2 separate regions of the Homo sapiens genome follow, and region 1 is linked to region 2. Evidence: fine-mapped expression QTL. Tissue or cell type: atrial appendage. Region 2 holds a variant in brackets; the other region holds the start of a gene. All regions are shown on one strand. Distances are from middle to middle.

What was found. PIP is the estimated chance that this variant, and not a neighbour inherited with it, causes the effect.
Region 1: it holds the start of MRPL45, and the variant in region 2 is fine-mapped to the expression of MRPL45 in atrial appendage (GTEx, PIP 0.96).

Annotation. Positions count from the first base shown.
Region 1 is chr17:38,292,357-38,300,460 of GRCh38, forward strand. It overlaps MRPL45 (mitochondrial ribosomal protein L45), which reads left to right and starts at 4,812. Exons shown (of 8, transcript NM_032351.6): 1 at 4,812-4,893; 2 at 6,093-6,270; 3 at 6,995-7,112. The coding sequence starts at 4,828. LOC105371760 (a long non-coding RNA gene) reads right to left here and starts at 3,249. Exons shown (of 3, transcript XR_934732.2): 1 at 3,138-3,249. RefSeq lists enhancers at 4,148-4,696, 4,697-5,247.
Region 2 is chr17:37,328,880-37,336,983 of GRCh38, forward strand. It overlaps ACACA (acetyl-CoA carboxylase alpha), which reads right to left. Exons shown (of 56, transcript NM_198834.3): 3 at 1,294-1,546. Among named protein-coding and RNA genes, the nearest start is that of C17orf78, 43 kb to the right of the region's middle. The variant C/G (reference allele first, on the strand shown) is at 4,667.

The DNA of each region.
Region 1 (8,104 bases), 960 kb after region 2:
AGGTGTGAGCCACCACACCCAGCCCTCTTCGGGCTCCATTTAGAAATTTCAATACGACAACAAGGGATTCCAGTAACCCACTTCACTGGGAAAAACAGGAAATCAACTTTTCCTTCTGCCTCATTATATTTCTTTTTCTTTTCTTTTCTTTTTTTTTTTTTTTGAGATGGAGTGTCGCTTTTTCGCCCAGGCTGGAGTGCAGTGGCCAGATCTCTGCTCACTTCAAGCTCCGCCTCCTGGGTTCATGCCATTCTCCTGCCTCAGCCTCCTGAGTAGCTGGGACTACAGGCGCCTGCCACCGCGCCCGACTAATTTTTTGTATTTTCAGTAGAGATGGGGTTTCCGTGTTAGCCAGGATGGTCTCGATCTCCTGACCTCGTGATTCACCCGCCTCGGCCTCCCAAAGTGCTGGGATTACAGGCGTGAGCCACCGCGCCCGGCCTGCCCCATCATATTTCAACTGGAATTCTTCACATCTGCTTATTGTATAAATAAATATTGGAGTGTCTACTATGTGCAAGAGTGTTCTTTGCCAAGACTGAGCCCCTAACAATCGATTCCTTCCTCTACTTGCACAATGAGTTCTCTTCTCTTGCTCCCATCATCGTGACAAGATCTTTTTATCTTGCTTTTTCTGAAATGTGAATTACTAAGATTGTAGGATTAAGAAATACCCTTTTTGGCTGGGCACGGTGGCTCATGCCTGTAATCCCAGCACTTTAGGAAGATGAGGCAGGTGGATCACCTGAGGTCAGGAGTTCGACACCAGCCTGACCAACACGGTGAAACCCCATCTTTACTAAAAATAGAAAAAATTAGCCAGGCTTGGTGGCGGGCACCTGTAATCCCAGCTACTTCGGAGGCTGAGGTAGGAGAATCACTTGAACCTGGAGGCCGACGTTGCAGTGAGCCGAGATCGTCCCACTGTACGCCAGCCTGGGCAACAAAGTGAAACTTCATCTCAAAAAAAAAAAGAAAGAAAAGAAATATCCTTTTGGTGTTACTTCTCTAACAGACAGCTCCCAATTTTCTTCTTTTTTTTTTTTTTTTTTTTTTTTGGGGGGGATTGAGTTTTGCTCTTGTTGCCCAGGCTAGAGTGCAATGGCATGATCTCGGCTCACCGCAACCTCCACCTCCCGGGTTCAAGCAATTCTCCTGCCTCAGCCTTCCGAAGAGCTGGGATTACAGGCGCCCGCTACCACGCCCAGCTAATTTTTTGTATTTTTAGTAGAGACGGGGTTTCTCCATGTTGGTCAGGCTGGTCTTGAGCTCCTGACCTCAGGTGATCTGCCTGCCTCAGCCTCCCGAAGTGCTGGGATTACACGCGTGAGCCACTGTGCCTGGCCAGCTCCCAATTTTCCATGAAGCTGATGAGGTAGGAAGATATGAATTTTCCAAAACAGTAGCTCATCAAACAACAACAAAACTAACTTATAGCTCATCTCTAAGCAATTAAATGATATTGACTCCCCTATCATTATTTCATCCAGGCTGATATGGAACAAGTTTGTATTAACTGAGAAACTGATCAGAGGGTGGGCAGAGATGATCTGGGATGTGTTGGCTACTGTGTGAGGCTAACATAAAACTCAATGGTGGAGGAAGTAATCTAAGATAAATTATATTAATGTTCTGCATTAATCAATAATCTTGGCCAGGCGCGGTGGCTCACGCCTGTAATCCCAGAACTCTGGGAGGCCGAGGCAGATGGATCACCTGAGGTCAGGAATTAGAGATCAGCCTGGCGATGTGGTGAAACCCTATCTCTACTAAAAATACAAAAATTAGCCAGGCATAGTGGCAGGCACCTGTAATCCCAGCTACTCGGGGGACTGAGGCAGGAGAATCGCTTGAACCCAGGGGGCAGAGGTCGCAGTGAACTGAGATCGAGCTATTGCACTCCAGCCTGGATGACAGAGTGAAACTGCATCTGAAAAAAAACAAAAAAACAAACAAAAAAAACACCTCTCATCCATGGAGTAAACTTTCCTCACTTTGGTTGGGAATACCAGTAAAAATAATTCATGTTTTGGCCGGGCACGGTGGCTCACCCCTGTAATCCCAGCAATTTGAGAGGCCGAGGTGGGCGGATCACCTGAGGTCAGGAGTTTGAGACCATCCCGGCCAACATGGTGAAACCCCATCTCTACTAAAAATACAAAAAATTAGCTGGGCGTGGTGGTGGGCACCTGTAATCCCAGTTACTTGGGAGGCTGAGGCAGGAGAATCACTTGAACCCGAGAGATGGAGGTTGCAGCGAGCCAAGATTGCGCTATCGCATTCCATCCTGGCTGACGAGTGAAAACTGTCTCAAGAGAAAAAAAAAATCATGTTTTATTTTCTAGGGATTAGAGTAGGTGGACAGGAGTCTGTTAAATAATCAGATATAGCTTATTTAAATGCTTAATAACATATATTCTATTTTTTTCTTTTTTCTTGTTTCCCTATGCTTCTATAGGCACTGAATAGCTCTGTTGCCCAGGCTGGAGTGCAGTGGTGGGATCTTGGCTTACTGCAACCTCTGCCTCCTGGACTTAAGCCATCCTCCCACCTCAGCCTCCCCAGTAGCTGGGGCCACCATGCCCAGCTATTTTTTTTTTTTTTTTTTTTTGAGACGGAGTCTTGCTCTGTCGCTCAGGCTGGAGTTCAGTGGCACAATCTCGGCTCACTGCAAGCTCCGCCTCCCAGGTTCACTCCATTCTCCTGTCTCAGCCTCTGGAGTAGCTGGGACTACAGGCGTCTGCCACCATGCCCGGCTAATTTTTTTTGTATTTTTAGTAGAGACGGGGTTTCACCATGTTAGCCAGGATGGTCTCAATCTCCTGACCTCGTGATTCGCCTGCCTCGGCCTCCCAAAGTGCAGGGATTACAGGTGTGAGCCACCGCACCCGGCCTAATTTTTTAATTTTTTTGTAGAGATAGGGTTTTGCCATATTGGGCAGGCTGGTCTTGAACTCCTGGACTCAAGGGATCTAACCCACTTCCGCCTCTCAAAGTGCTGGGATTACAAGTGTGAGCCACCCCACACGACCCCACATACTCTTCAACACATACATACAGCACTAATTTCATGTCACTATTAATGTGTCGTGCTATAGGTTCAATACTGTGGCTGGAACTTGTAGGGAAATACTTACCACATAAGAATGTACGATATAGCTGCGAAGTCAAGCTTTAAAAAACGCCTGTAATCCTTGCACTTTGGGAGGCCGAGGTGGGCGGATTGCCGGAGCTCAGGAGTTGGAGACCAGCCTGGGCAACACGGTGAAACCTCGTCTCTACTAAACTAGAAAAAATTAGCCGGGCATGGCAGCGTGCACCTGTAATCCCAGTTACTCTGGCGGCTGAGGCAGGAGAATCGCTTGAACCTGGGAGGCAGAGGTTGCAGTGAGCCGAGATTGTGCCACCGCACTCCAGCCTGGGTGACAGAGTGAGACTCCGTCTCCAAAAACAACAACAACACGTGATCTCCAAACCCAAAAGTAATCTTTCAGTTCTTCTGATAGTCCCCAGCACTTTGCTTCGACCTTTGTAGCAATTCTACTTCAGCCTGAAATTTCTTGTATGTACAGCCTGTAGCTCCTAACTTATTGCAAAATATTGTAGATGAGAACTCTGTAAGCTGTAATTGGCAGAATAATAACCAACGGCTAAGTGTGGAAAGTGTCTGCCTTTCAGCAACGTTTACACTACTGAATTTACCAGGGTGATCCCAACATCACGAATCCTTTAACAACTTAACATGAAGCAGCACGTAGCAGTTACCTGCATGGGTTCTGGAATTAGACTGCTTAGATTCAAATCTCGGTTCTGCCAGTTATCATCTATCTAACCTTAAGTAAATTACGTAATTGCTCTGTGACTCCTTTCCGAAATGACAAATCACAAATGTTTTTGTCAATTCACGTGTCTTCTGCTTTAGTAAACATAGTAGAAGACAGTAGTCAATCTCTTTTTTTGTTTTTTTTTGAGACAAAGTCTTTCTCTGTCACCGACGCTGGAGTGCAGTGGCGGGATCTCGGATCACTGCAGCCTCCGCCTCCTGTGTTCGAGGGATTCTCCTGCCTTAGCCTCCCAAGTAGCTCAGACTACAGCCGCCTGCCACCAAGCCCGGCGCTCTCTTGCTGGCGCATGACAACCGTGCGTTCCACCCTACGACTAATTTTTTTTTTTTTTTTTTAGACGGAGTCTAGCTCTGGCTGGAGTCAGTGGCGCGATCTCGGCTCACTGCAACCTCTGCCTCCTGGGTTCAAGCGATTCTCCTGCCTCAGCCTTACAAGCAGCTGGGACTACAGGCGTGTGCCACCACGCCCGGCTAATTTTTGTATTTTTAGTAGAGACGGGGTTTCGTCATTTTGGCCAGGCTGGTCTCGAACTCCTGACTTCAGGTGATCCACCGGTCTCGGCCTCCCAAAGTGCTGGGATTACAGGCGTGAGCCACCGCGCCCGGCCTCCTTTTCCTTTTTTAACTAATGGAATAAACGGCAATGTGCCAAGCATACAGCAATGCCCATTCCCCGGCCTTCAGAAAGCCTCGGGCGCAGGCGCAGCTCGCGTTCAAGCGCTCTCTCGCTGGCGGGGGACAACAGTTCGTTCCACCCTACGCCCAACGTTGTCTCCCTGCGCACGCGCGGCCGTACTCCGCCCTCCTTACTCCACCCTCCCCCACTCCCGCGAGCACGTGCGCGTCCTCGCTGCTCACATTTCGGCGGAGGGCGCGCTCCCTGGAAAATTCCACTCCTGTGCTAGCTCCACCCTATGCGGCTTTTCTCCTACCCGACGCTCTTCACTCTCAGCTCCCTTCCCGGCGGCCTTTGCGGGAACAAGATGGCAGCCCCCATACCTCAAGGGTTCTCTTGTTTATCGAGGTTTTTGGGCTGGTGGTCTCGGCAGGTGGGTAGGGACGGGGCCGATAGGACCCTAGGGGCTACAGGAGAGGACAGAGTCGAGGGAAATACTCTCTGTGCAATTGTCCTTGGTGAGCTGGGACAATACGAGTCATACCTAGGCCGGGGAAGAGGCTTAGGTGGACAGGACCTAGCTGCGGAGCTCAGTGGTCGAATGGGGATAGCCTAGACAGGGCCATGAGAGCGAGTGAATTAACGGATATTAAGTTTTTCCGGATTGGTTTGGGTCTGTCTGGCGAGGAGATATTAAAGGAGAGACAAGTAATGGGTTGGAAGGTGGACTCCCTAATCTTCGATTCTTATAAGTGAACTACGTTGAAGAGTAGCCGAAAATGAGGGCGTCCCATATTGTCACTGCCCCGTCTGAGCAAACCTCATGATCAGAGAGAAAAGATCTCCTGATCTTTCGAGGGTTTATTGGTCAGTTGGGTGCTAAAACGACAGAATAAAGTTTACAGCGAGACTCCCGATAGGATGAGCAAAATATCACGAGTACATATGGAGCAGATGCCTACAAGAGGACTTTGCTTATGCTTTAAGCATAGCATTCAGGGCCCGGCGCGGTGGTTCACACTTGTAATCCCAGCACTTTGAAAGTCCGAGGCAGAAGGATGGCTTGAGCCCAGGAGTTCGAAATGAGCCTGGGCAACATATAAGACCTGGTCTTTACAAAAAAATTTTAAAATTAGCCAGATGCGATGGCGCACTCCTTAGTCCCAGCTACTTGGGAGGCTGCGGTGGGAGGATAGCTAGAGCCCAGGAGGTCAAGGCTGCAGTGAACCGTGATCGTGCCATCGCACTCTAGGCTAGCGATCTGCCTCAAAAAATAATAAAGAATAGTATTCTGCCCATTTCAGTATTGAGTTGGTGTTTCCCCATCACCATCAGTTTTTGAAACTTGCTTTGATCAACTCAGTATCCGTAGGAGTTAGCATAGTCCTGTACTGTGGGAAGTTCTAAAGGAAAGCCTTTAGTAAATGTGATGTTAATAAAGGTTGCTAACTGTCTTCTATTTAGAGACACCCATAAGTATTAAGGTCCTAATGCATTTTTTCCCTGTGATATTGTTTTATAATTGTTCCTGAAGCATTCTTTGGATATTCCCTCTCTATAGTGCTTTGCTTAGAGTTTGTAAAAGATAGTAGATCTTTTTTCTAGGTTCCTAACCTTTCCTTTACCTTCCAGCCAGTTCTGGTGACTCAGTCCGCAGCTATAGTTCCAGTAAGAACTAAAAAACGTTTCACACCTCCTATTTATCAACCTAAATTTAAAACAGAAAAGGAGTTTATGCAACATGCCCGGAAAGCAGGATTGGTTATTCCTCCAGAAAAATCGGACCGTTCCATACATCTGGCCTGTACAGGTGAGGTATTTCTGGGACCCTGACCTGGGATCCTTCTGTCAGAGATCTTCTGGAACTTGGGATGACTTGGACTATGATTGATAATATTTAATTAAGCACGAAGTCAGTTCAACCTCAATAATGATTAACCTTATATACACTATATATCATGAAGTTGTTCTTTGAACTTACTTTCACACTGTCCCTAGAAGGCAAGAGTGAAATTTCTCCATTTTGTGGAAGTAGAAACTGAGGCTCTGAGAGAAGACTTAAATCTTTCTGGCTTTTTTTGTTTTGTTTTGTTTTGTTTTTTGAGACAGAGTCTCGTTCTGTCGCCCAGTGGCACAATCTGGGCTCACTGCAACCTCTGCCCCCCTGGGTTCAAGCGATTCTCCTACCTCAGCCTTCCAAGTAGCTGGGATTACAGGCACCTGCCACCATGCCCGGCTAATTTTTGTATTTTTAGTAGAGATGGGGTTTCACCATCTTGGCCAGGCTGGTCTTGAATTCCTGACTTTGTGATCCGCCCGCCTCGGCCTCCCAAAGTACTGGGATTACAGGTGTGAGCCACTGTGCCCGGCCTTGTTTTGTTTTTTTCTAGTGTAACATAGTTCTCTCTACATGGAAGTCTGTTTCATTAGTCTACTTCATATCCACAATCCTTCCCAATTTTACATTACTTCAATTTTATGAGTTTTTCTCAATCTTTCAACACTTTCTTAATTTTTTTCTTCCTTTATTACAGCTGGTATATTTGATGCCTATGTTCCTCCTGAGGGTGATGCACGCATATCATCTCTTTCAAAGGAGGGACTGATAGAGAGAACTGAACGAATGAAGAAGACTATGGCATCACAAGTGTCGTAGGTGTCTGAGACAATTGGGTATTGGTATTAGAATAACAATTTTTTGTTGCTACTTTATCCCAAAGAGACCTTTTTGGGTTAATTGGGTTGGGTGTCATTCTCTTAATAACATGATGGTATTTTCTCCTTTGTACTAGAGTCTGTATTTAATGCAGAATAATGTGGGCTTCCTGATTCTCAGCATCCCTGCCTTTATTGGTAATTTTTGTCATATCAGTTAGGGAGTTGACTTTGGAGTGTATAGGATCCTTTTTTAATCATATATTTAATTTTTTTTTTTTTGAGATGGAGTTTCGCTCTTGTTGCCCAGACTAGAATGCAATGGCACGATCTTGGCTCACCGCAACCTCCGCCTCCTGGATTCAAATGATCCTCCTGCCTCAGCCTCCTGAGTAGCTGGGATTACAGGCATGTGCCACCATGCCCGGCTAATTTTGTATTTTTAGTAGAGATGTGGTTTCTCCATGTTGGTCTGTTGGTCAGGCTGGTCTTGAACTCCTGACCTCAGGAGGCCCGCCTTGGCCTCCCAAAGTGCTGGGATTACAGGTGAGAGCCACCACGCCCAGCCCTTTATTTATTTATTTATTTATTTATTTTGAGACGGAGTTTCACTCTTAACTCACTGCAACCTCTGCCTCCCGGGTTCAAGAGATTCTCCTGCCTCAGCCTCCCGAGTAGCTGGACTACAGACGCATGCCACCACGCCCAGCTAATTTTTGTATTTTTAGTAAAGACGGGGTTTCACCATGTTGGCCAAGATGGTCTCGATCTCTTGACCTCGTGATCCACCCACCTCAGCCTCCTGAAGTGCTGGGATTACAGGCGTGAGCCACTGCGCCCAGCCGACCTGGCTAATTTTTAAAAGAAATTTTTGTAGAGACGGGTTATCACTATGTTGCCCAGGCTGGTCTCGAACTCCTGGGCTCAAGCAGTCCTCCCACCTCAGCCTCCCAAAATTCTGGGATTACAGGTGTGACCCGTCACACCCA
Region 2 (8,104 bases):
TGAATCGAAATCTCTGGGGATGGGGCTTATCTCCCAAGGCTCCCCGAGGTGATTCTGATGAACAGTGAGAACCAAGAACCACTGATCCAGACCTTTTAATCCAAGAACTGAAAAGTAAATGACCAAAGGTTAGTATCTCACACGCTAGTTATATAATCAAACATCGATAAATAAAAACAATCTAGTGTTACTATGTACTGACATTCTCAGTTAGGGAGAACTGTGTTTCTAGAGAAAAAGGAGAGCTCTATTAACAGCCCTTTATTGGGGACTGGCCCTGCTAGAAACAGAATATAACTTCCTGACAATCTGATGAATTAGTTCAAAAAAACTTACTACGAAGTTGACAACACCTGGAGAAGTCCTATCAATCATCAAGATAGTTAGAACAATGTTAGTCAAAGTAGTACAAAAACTGATGTTCCTCAACCTAACTCTTACTCACTAGGTCTCACTGAAAGACCTAGCAGGTAGAAGTGGCCAGGTGTAGTGGTTCATATCTTTAATCCCAGCACTTTGAGAGACTGAGGCAGGCGGATCACTTGAGGTCAGGAATTCGAGACCAGCCTGGCCAACATGGCGAAACCCGGTGTCTATCAAAAACAACAGAAATCAGCTAGGCGCAAGGGCATGCACTTGTAGTCCCAGCTATTCAGGAGGCTGAGGCAGGAGAATCTCTTGAACCTGGGAGGCAGAGGTTGCAGTGAGCTGAGATTGTACCACTGCACTCCCATTTGGGCGACAGAGTGAGACTCTATCTCAAAAAAAAAAAAAAAAATAGGCTGGGCGGGGTAGCTCACACCTCTAATCCCAGCATTTTGGAAAGCTGAGGTGGGCGGATCACAAGGTCAGGAGTTCAAGACCAGCCTGGCCAACATGGTGAAACTCCATCTCTACTAAAAACACAAAAAATTAGCTGGGCATGGTGGCAGGCGCCTGTAATCCCAGCTACTTGGGAGGCTGAGGCAGAAGAATTGCTTGAACCCAGGAGGCGGAGGTTGCAGTGAGCTGAGACCGCACCACTGCACTCCAGCTTGGGCAACAGAGCAAGACTCCGTCTCAAAAAACAAAAACAAAAACAAAAAAAACCTAGTAGGACATGAAAAATTTGATGGGAACATACATGATTTCTGAAAAATACATCATTTCTGACTTCCTCAACAAAGCTTTGAGTTCAGTGACATAGGAAAAGGCAAAGCAGTCTTAGCTGAAATCATCCTTGCTCTTTTCAGAACATAATCAGCAAAACTAACAAGACAGATTAAATAAGTAGACCATTGAACTCTCTCTTACCTTATGTGCAAGGCCAAGCCATCCTGTAGGCTAGAGATCCCCAAATCAGAGAGTGTATCTGAGCCAACAGAAGCAGGTGACAAGGAGCCCTCCTTCTCCTCCAGTAGGTCCAACTTCACCAGGTTGCTGATCTCATCCTCTGAGTTATCTTCAGACACAGAACCTATTATGAATCGAGAGTGCTGGTTCAGCTCCAGAGGTTGGGCCAAGGGAGATGGTTCATCCATTATTCCTCCAAAATGAGCTCTTACAGCTATGGAGAAAATGAAAAGTGAGAAAGGCAGGTTATGAATAATAATCTATATCTGAGGTCAGCCAGAGGTTATATCTAATAAACCATAGCTGAGACGTGGAAGCAAGGCAATTTGAGAACTAACTTCCTTGGCTATTCTATTTCAGGGCCTTTAATTTCTACAAGGGAGGAAAATTGAGATCATGATAACTATGCCCATAAATTAAAACCAGTTCCCTTTTCCTCAAAGAAATTTTTCTCAAAAGCCTATAAGGCATTCCTAATCTCATTTTCATTTGGTGGTGTCCAGGAAATAATTATGATCAATGGGGAAACCTTTGCAGTAGGAAAAAGCTGCTTGTTGTGATATTGATATTTTGGTTGTTAGTAATGGGGGAATAAATGGTAAGGGTCTGGATAGAGTAATGGTTGTTTGAAATAATATTTAAACTACATAATGCTCATCTGGCTTCAAACACTATATATTGAGAGGCTATAACTTTTATTTTATTATTTATTTATTTGAGACAGGGTCTCACTCTGTCACCCATACAGCATGCAGTACTACAATCATGGTTCACTGCAGCCTCAAACTCTTTGGGCTCAAGTGATCCTCCTACCTCAGCCTCCCCAGTAGCTGGGACTATAGGCACGTGCCACCATGCCCGGCTAATTCTATTTTTATTTTTCATTTATTTATTTATTTATTTATTTATTTATTTATTTATTTAGAGACGGAGTCTCGCTCTGTTGCCCAGGCTGGAGTGCAGTGGTGCGACTGCCACTCACTGCAAGCTCCGCCTCCCGGGTTCATGCCATTCTCCTGCCTCAGCCTCCTGAGTACCTGGGACTACAGGCACCCGCCACAACACCCAGCTAATTTTTTGTATTTTTAGTAGAGATGGGGTTTCACCGTGTTAGCCAGGATGGTCTCGATCTCCTGACCTTCCGCCTCAGCCTCCCAAAGTGCTGGGATTCCAGGTGTGAGCCACCGCACCCGGCCTATTTTTTTTTTCTTTTTTGAGACGGAGTCTCACTCTGTCGCCCAGGCTGGAGTGCAATGGCACGATCTCAGCTCACTGCAACCTCCGCCTCCCGGGTTCAAGCAATTCTCTGCCTCGGCCTCCCAAGTAGCTGGGATTACAGGTACCCACCACCATGCCCGGCTGACTTTTGTATTTTTAGTAGAGATGGAGTTTCACTATCTTGGCTAGGCTGGTCTTGAACTCCTGATCTCATGATCCACCCACCTCAGCCTCTCAAAGTGCTAGGACTATGGGTGTGAGCCACTGTGCCCGGTCTAATTTTTAAATATTTTGTAGAAATGGGGACTCCCTATGTTGCCTAGGCTGGTCTTGAACTCCTGGGCTCAAGCAATCCTCTCACCTTAGGCTCCCAAACTGCTGGGATTACAGGTGTAAGCCACTGTGCCTGGCCTATGAATTTTACGTATGTGTATACTTTTAAAACAAACTCCAGATAGGTAATTTTTAATTAAAAAAAAAAAAACTTTACTTGTCCTCATGAGTTTTTTCTTAAATTATGCATTTTAAAATGTCACCCCAAAATGACTACTTTTGGCTCTAATGTGCTGACACTGATATGAGAAGAAAATGAATCTATCACCAAATTTAAAATCTATAATCACCTCAAGTAAGTATAATTTTTCTAAATGTAGGGCCTTACCAGTTAGGATTAGATACTGCCAATAGCTAACTAAGAAACTAATTAACAGCAAACCATCATGACACGTGTTTACCTACATAACAAACCTGCATGTTCTGCACATGTATCCCAGAACTTAAAAGTATAATTTAAAAAAAAAAAAGAAAGAAAAAGAAACTAATTAATAAAGACCAAAACAGCAACATTCATTCTCTTTTATGGAATGAAGTGCTGCCCATAAAAATTTAAAAATATTTTTTAAAAACCAAAATAAGAGCCCACAACAATAAAAACCCAAACTAAATGAAACAATATTTCTTCTGTCATCTCAAAAATCCTATTTTAAAATTTCAAAACTACAGATCAACTCAGTATTAAATAGCTTGTACCCAGATCAATTATTTTAATTCAGAAAATAAGCCTGGGCGCGGTGGCTCACGCCTATAATCCTAACAACTTGGGAGGCAGAGGCAGGAGGATTGTTTGAGTCCAGGAGTTCAAGACTAGCATGAGCATCAAAACAAGATCCCATCTGTACAAAAAAAAAAAAAAAAAGATTGGCCGGACGCGGTGGCTCACGCCTGTAAATACCAGCACTTTGGTAGGCCGAGGTGGGTAGATCACCTGAGGTCAGCAGTTCAACACCAACCTGGCCAACATGGTGAAACCCCGTCTCTACTAAAAATACAAAAATTAGCTGGGTGTGGTAACAAGTGTATAATCCCAGCTACTCGGGAGGCTGAGGCAGAAGAATCACTTGAACCCGGGAGGCGGAGGTTGCAGTGAGCTGAGATCATGCCTCTGCACTCCAGCCTGGGTGACAGAGTGAGACTCTGTCTAGAAAAAAAAAAAAAAAAAAGATTAATAATTCCCAATTGTGGACCTTTTAGAGGTTCCCTTGACTGATCCCGACCTCAACTTGTATACTGATGGAAGTTCCTTTGTAGAAAAAGGACTTTGAAAAGTGGGGTATGCAGTGGTCAGTGATAATGGAATACTTGAAAGTAATGCCCTCACTCCAGCAACTACTGCTCAGCTGGCAGAACTCATAGCCCTCACTCAGGCACTAGAATTAGGAGCAGGAAAAAGGATAAATATATATACAGACTCTAAGTATGCTTACCTAGTCCTCCATGCCCATGCAGCAATATGGAGAGAAAGGGAATTCCTAACTTCCAAGGAACACCTATCAAACATCGGGAAGCCATCAGGAGATTATTCTAGGCTGTACAGAAACCTAAAGAGGTGGCAGTCTTACACTGCCGGTGTCATCAGAAAGGAAAGGAAAGGAAAGGGAAATAGAAGGGAACCGCCAACCAGATATTGGAGCCAAAAGAGCCGCAAGGCAGGACCCTCCATTAGAAATGCTTATAGAAGGACACCTAGTATGGGGTAATCCCCTCCAGGAAACCAAGCCCCAGTACTCAGAAGAAGAAATAGAATGGGGAACCTCACGGGGACATAGTTTCCTCCCCT[C/G]AGGATGGCTAGCCACCAAAGAAGGAAAAATACTTTTGCCTGCAGCTAACCAATGGAAATTACTTAAAACCCTTCACCAAACCCTTCACTTAGGTATTGATAGCACCCATCAGATGGCCAAATCATTATTTACTGGACCAGGCCTTTTCAAAACTATCAAGCAGATAGTCAGGGCCTGTGAAGTGTGCCAAAGAAATAATCCCCTGCCTTATCGCCAAGCTCCTTCAGGAGAACAAAGAACAGGCCACTACCCAAGAGAAGACTGGCAACTAGATTTTACCCATATGCCCAAATCTCAGGGATTTCAGTATCTACTAGTTTGGGTAGATACTTTCACTGGTTGGGCAGAGGCCTTCCCCTGTAGGACAGAAAAGGCCCAAGAGGTAATAAACGTTCATGAAATAATTCCCAGATTCGGACTTCCCCAAGGCTTACAGAGTGACAATGGCCCTGCTTTCAAGGCTACAGTAACCCAAGGAGTATCCCAGGTGTTAGGTATACAATATCACTCACACTGCGCCTGGAGGCCACAGTCCTCAGGAAAGGTGGAGAAAATGAACAAAACACTCAAATGACATCTAAAAAAGCTAATCCAGGAAACCCACCTCGCATGGCCTGCTCTGTTGCCTATAGCCTTACTAAGAATCCGAAACTCTCCCCAAAAAGCAGGACTTAGTCCATACAAAATGCTGTATGGACGGCCCTTCCTAACCAATGAACTTGGGCTTGACCGAGAGACAGCCAACTTAGTTGCAGACATCATCTCCTTAGCCAAATATCAACAGGTTCTTAAAACATTACAGGGAGCCTGTCCCCAAGAAGAGGGAAAGGAACTATTCCACCCTGGTGACATGGTATTAGTCAAGTCCCTTCCCTCTAATTCCCCATCCCTAGATACATCCTGGGAAGGAAACTACCCAGCCATTTTATCTACCCTAACGGCAGTTAAAGTGGCTGGAGCGGAGTCTTGGATACATCACACTCAAGTCAAACCCTGGATACTGCCAAAGGAACTCAAAAATCCATGAGACAATGCTAGCTATTCCTGTGAACCTCTAGAGGATCTGCGCCTGCTCTTCAAATGACAACCAGGGGGAAAGTAACTAAAATCGTAAATCCCCTGGCCCTCCCTTATCATATTTTTCTCTTTACTGTTCTCTTACCCCCTTTCACTCTCACTGCACCCCGTCCATGCCACTGCACCCCGTCCATGCCCCGTCCATGCCAGTAGCTCCCCTTAGCAAGAGTTTCTATGGAGAATGCAGCGTCCCGGAAATATTGATGCCCCATTGTATAGGAGTTTATCTAAGGGAACCCCCACCTTCACTGCCCACACCCATATGCCCCACAACTGCTATAACTCTGCCACTCTTTGCATGCATGCAAATACTCATTATTGGACAGGAAAAACGATTAATCCCAGTTGTCCTGGAGGACTTGGAGGACTCACTTCACTCATACCAGTATGTCTGATGGGGGTGGAGTTCAAGATCAGGCAACAGAAAAACACATAAAGGAAGTAATCTCCCAACTGACCTGGGTACATAGCACCCCTGGCCCCTACAAAGGACTAGATCTCTCAAAACTACATGAAACCCTCCATACCCATACTGGCCTGGTAAGCCTATTTAATACCACCCTGACTGGGCTCCATGAGGTCTCGGCCCAAAACCCTACTAACTGTTGGATGTGCCTCCCCCTGCACTTTAGGCCATACATTTCAATCCCTATACCTGAACAATGGAACAACTTCAGCACAGAAATAAACACCACTTCTGTTTTAGTAGGTCCTCTTTCCAATCTGGAAATAACCCATACCTCAAACCTCACCTGTGTAAAATTTAGCAATACTATAGACACAGCCAACTCCCAATGCATCAGGTGGGTAACTCCTCCCACACGAATAGTCTGCCTACCCTCAGGAATATTTTTTGTCTGTGGTACCTCAGCCTATCATTGTTTGAATGGCTCTTCAGAATCTGTGTGCTTCCTCTCATTCTTAGTGGCCCCTATGCCCATCTACACTGAACAAGATTTATACAATCATGTCATACCTAAGCCCCGCAACAAAAGAGTACCCATTCTTCCTTTTGTTATTGGAGCAGGAGTGCTAGGCGGAGTAGCTACTGGCATTGGCGGTATCACAACCTCTACTCAGTTCTACTACAAACTGTCTCAAGAACTAAATGGTGACATGGAATGGGTCGCTGATACCCTGGTCACCTTGCAAGATCAACTTAACTCCCTAGCAGCAGTAGTCCTTCAAAATCGAAGAGCTTTAGACTTGCTAACCGCGGAAAGCGGGGGAACCTTTTTATTTTTAGAGGAAAAATGCTGTTGTTATGTTAATCAATCCGGAATCATCACCGAGAAAGTTAAAGAAATTCAAGGTCGAATATAACGTAGAGCAAAGGAGCTGCAAAACACTGGACCCTGGGGCCTCCTCAGCCAATGGATGCCCTGGATTCTCCCCTTCTTAGGACCTCTAGCAGCTATAATATTGTTACTCCTCTTTGGACCCTGTATCTTTAACCTCCTTGTTAAGTTTGTCTTTTCCAGAATCGAAGCAGTAAAACTACAAATCGTTCTTCAAATGGAGCCCCAGATGCAGTCCATGAGTAAAATCTACCACGGACCCCTGGACCGGCCTGCTAGCCCATGCTCTGATGTTAATGACATCAAAGGCACCCCTCCCGAGGAAATCTCAACTGCACAACCTCTACTACGCCCCAATTCAGCAGGAAGCAGTTAGAGTGGTTGTTGGCCAACCTCCCCAACAGCAGTTGGGTTTTCCTGTTGAGAGGGGGGACTGAGAGACAGGAATAACTAGATTTCCTAGACCAACTAAGAATCCCTAAGACTAGCTGGGAAGGTGACCGCTTCCACCTTTAAACACCGGGCTTGCAACTTAGCTCACGCCCAACCAATCAGATACTAAAGAGAGCTCACTAAAATGCTAATTAGGCAAAAACAGGAGATAAAGAAATAGCCAATCATCTGTTGCCTGACAGCACAGCAGGAGGGACAATGATCGGGATATAAACCCAGGCATTCGAGCCAGCTACAGCTACCCTCTTTGGGTCCCCTCCCTTTGTATGGGAGCTCTGTCTTCACTCTATTAAATCTTGCAACTGCAAAAATAAAAATAGAAAAATAATAATTCCCAATTGTGATTTTGAAGTGCTCTAAGATATGGTACATTAATAGATAATAAATGTATTATTAATAACTCTGTATGCTATAACTCACTGTAAAGTATGAAAGTAAGTGGACAACAGTGTTCCTTGACATCAGATGAGAAACCGTCAATACTTTAAAATGTTTGGGAATCACCACTCAACATGTGAAAATTACATATGCACGATTGTTCTGGTGTAATTTGTGAGTCAGTTTACTCACTTACAGAGACAAACAGCATTTATAAATGCTAGAGTAGTG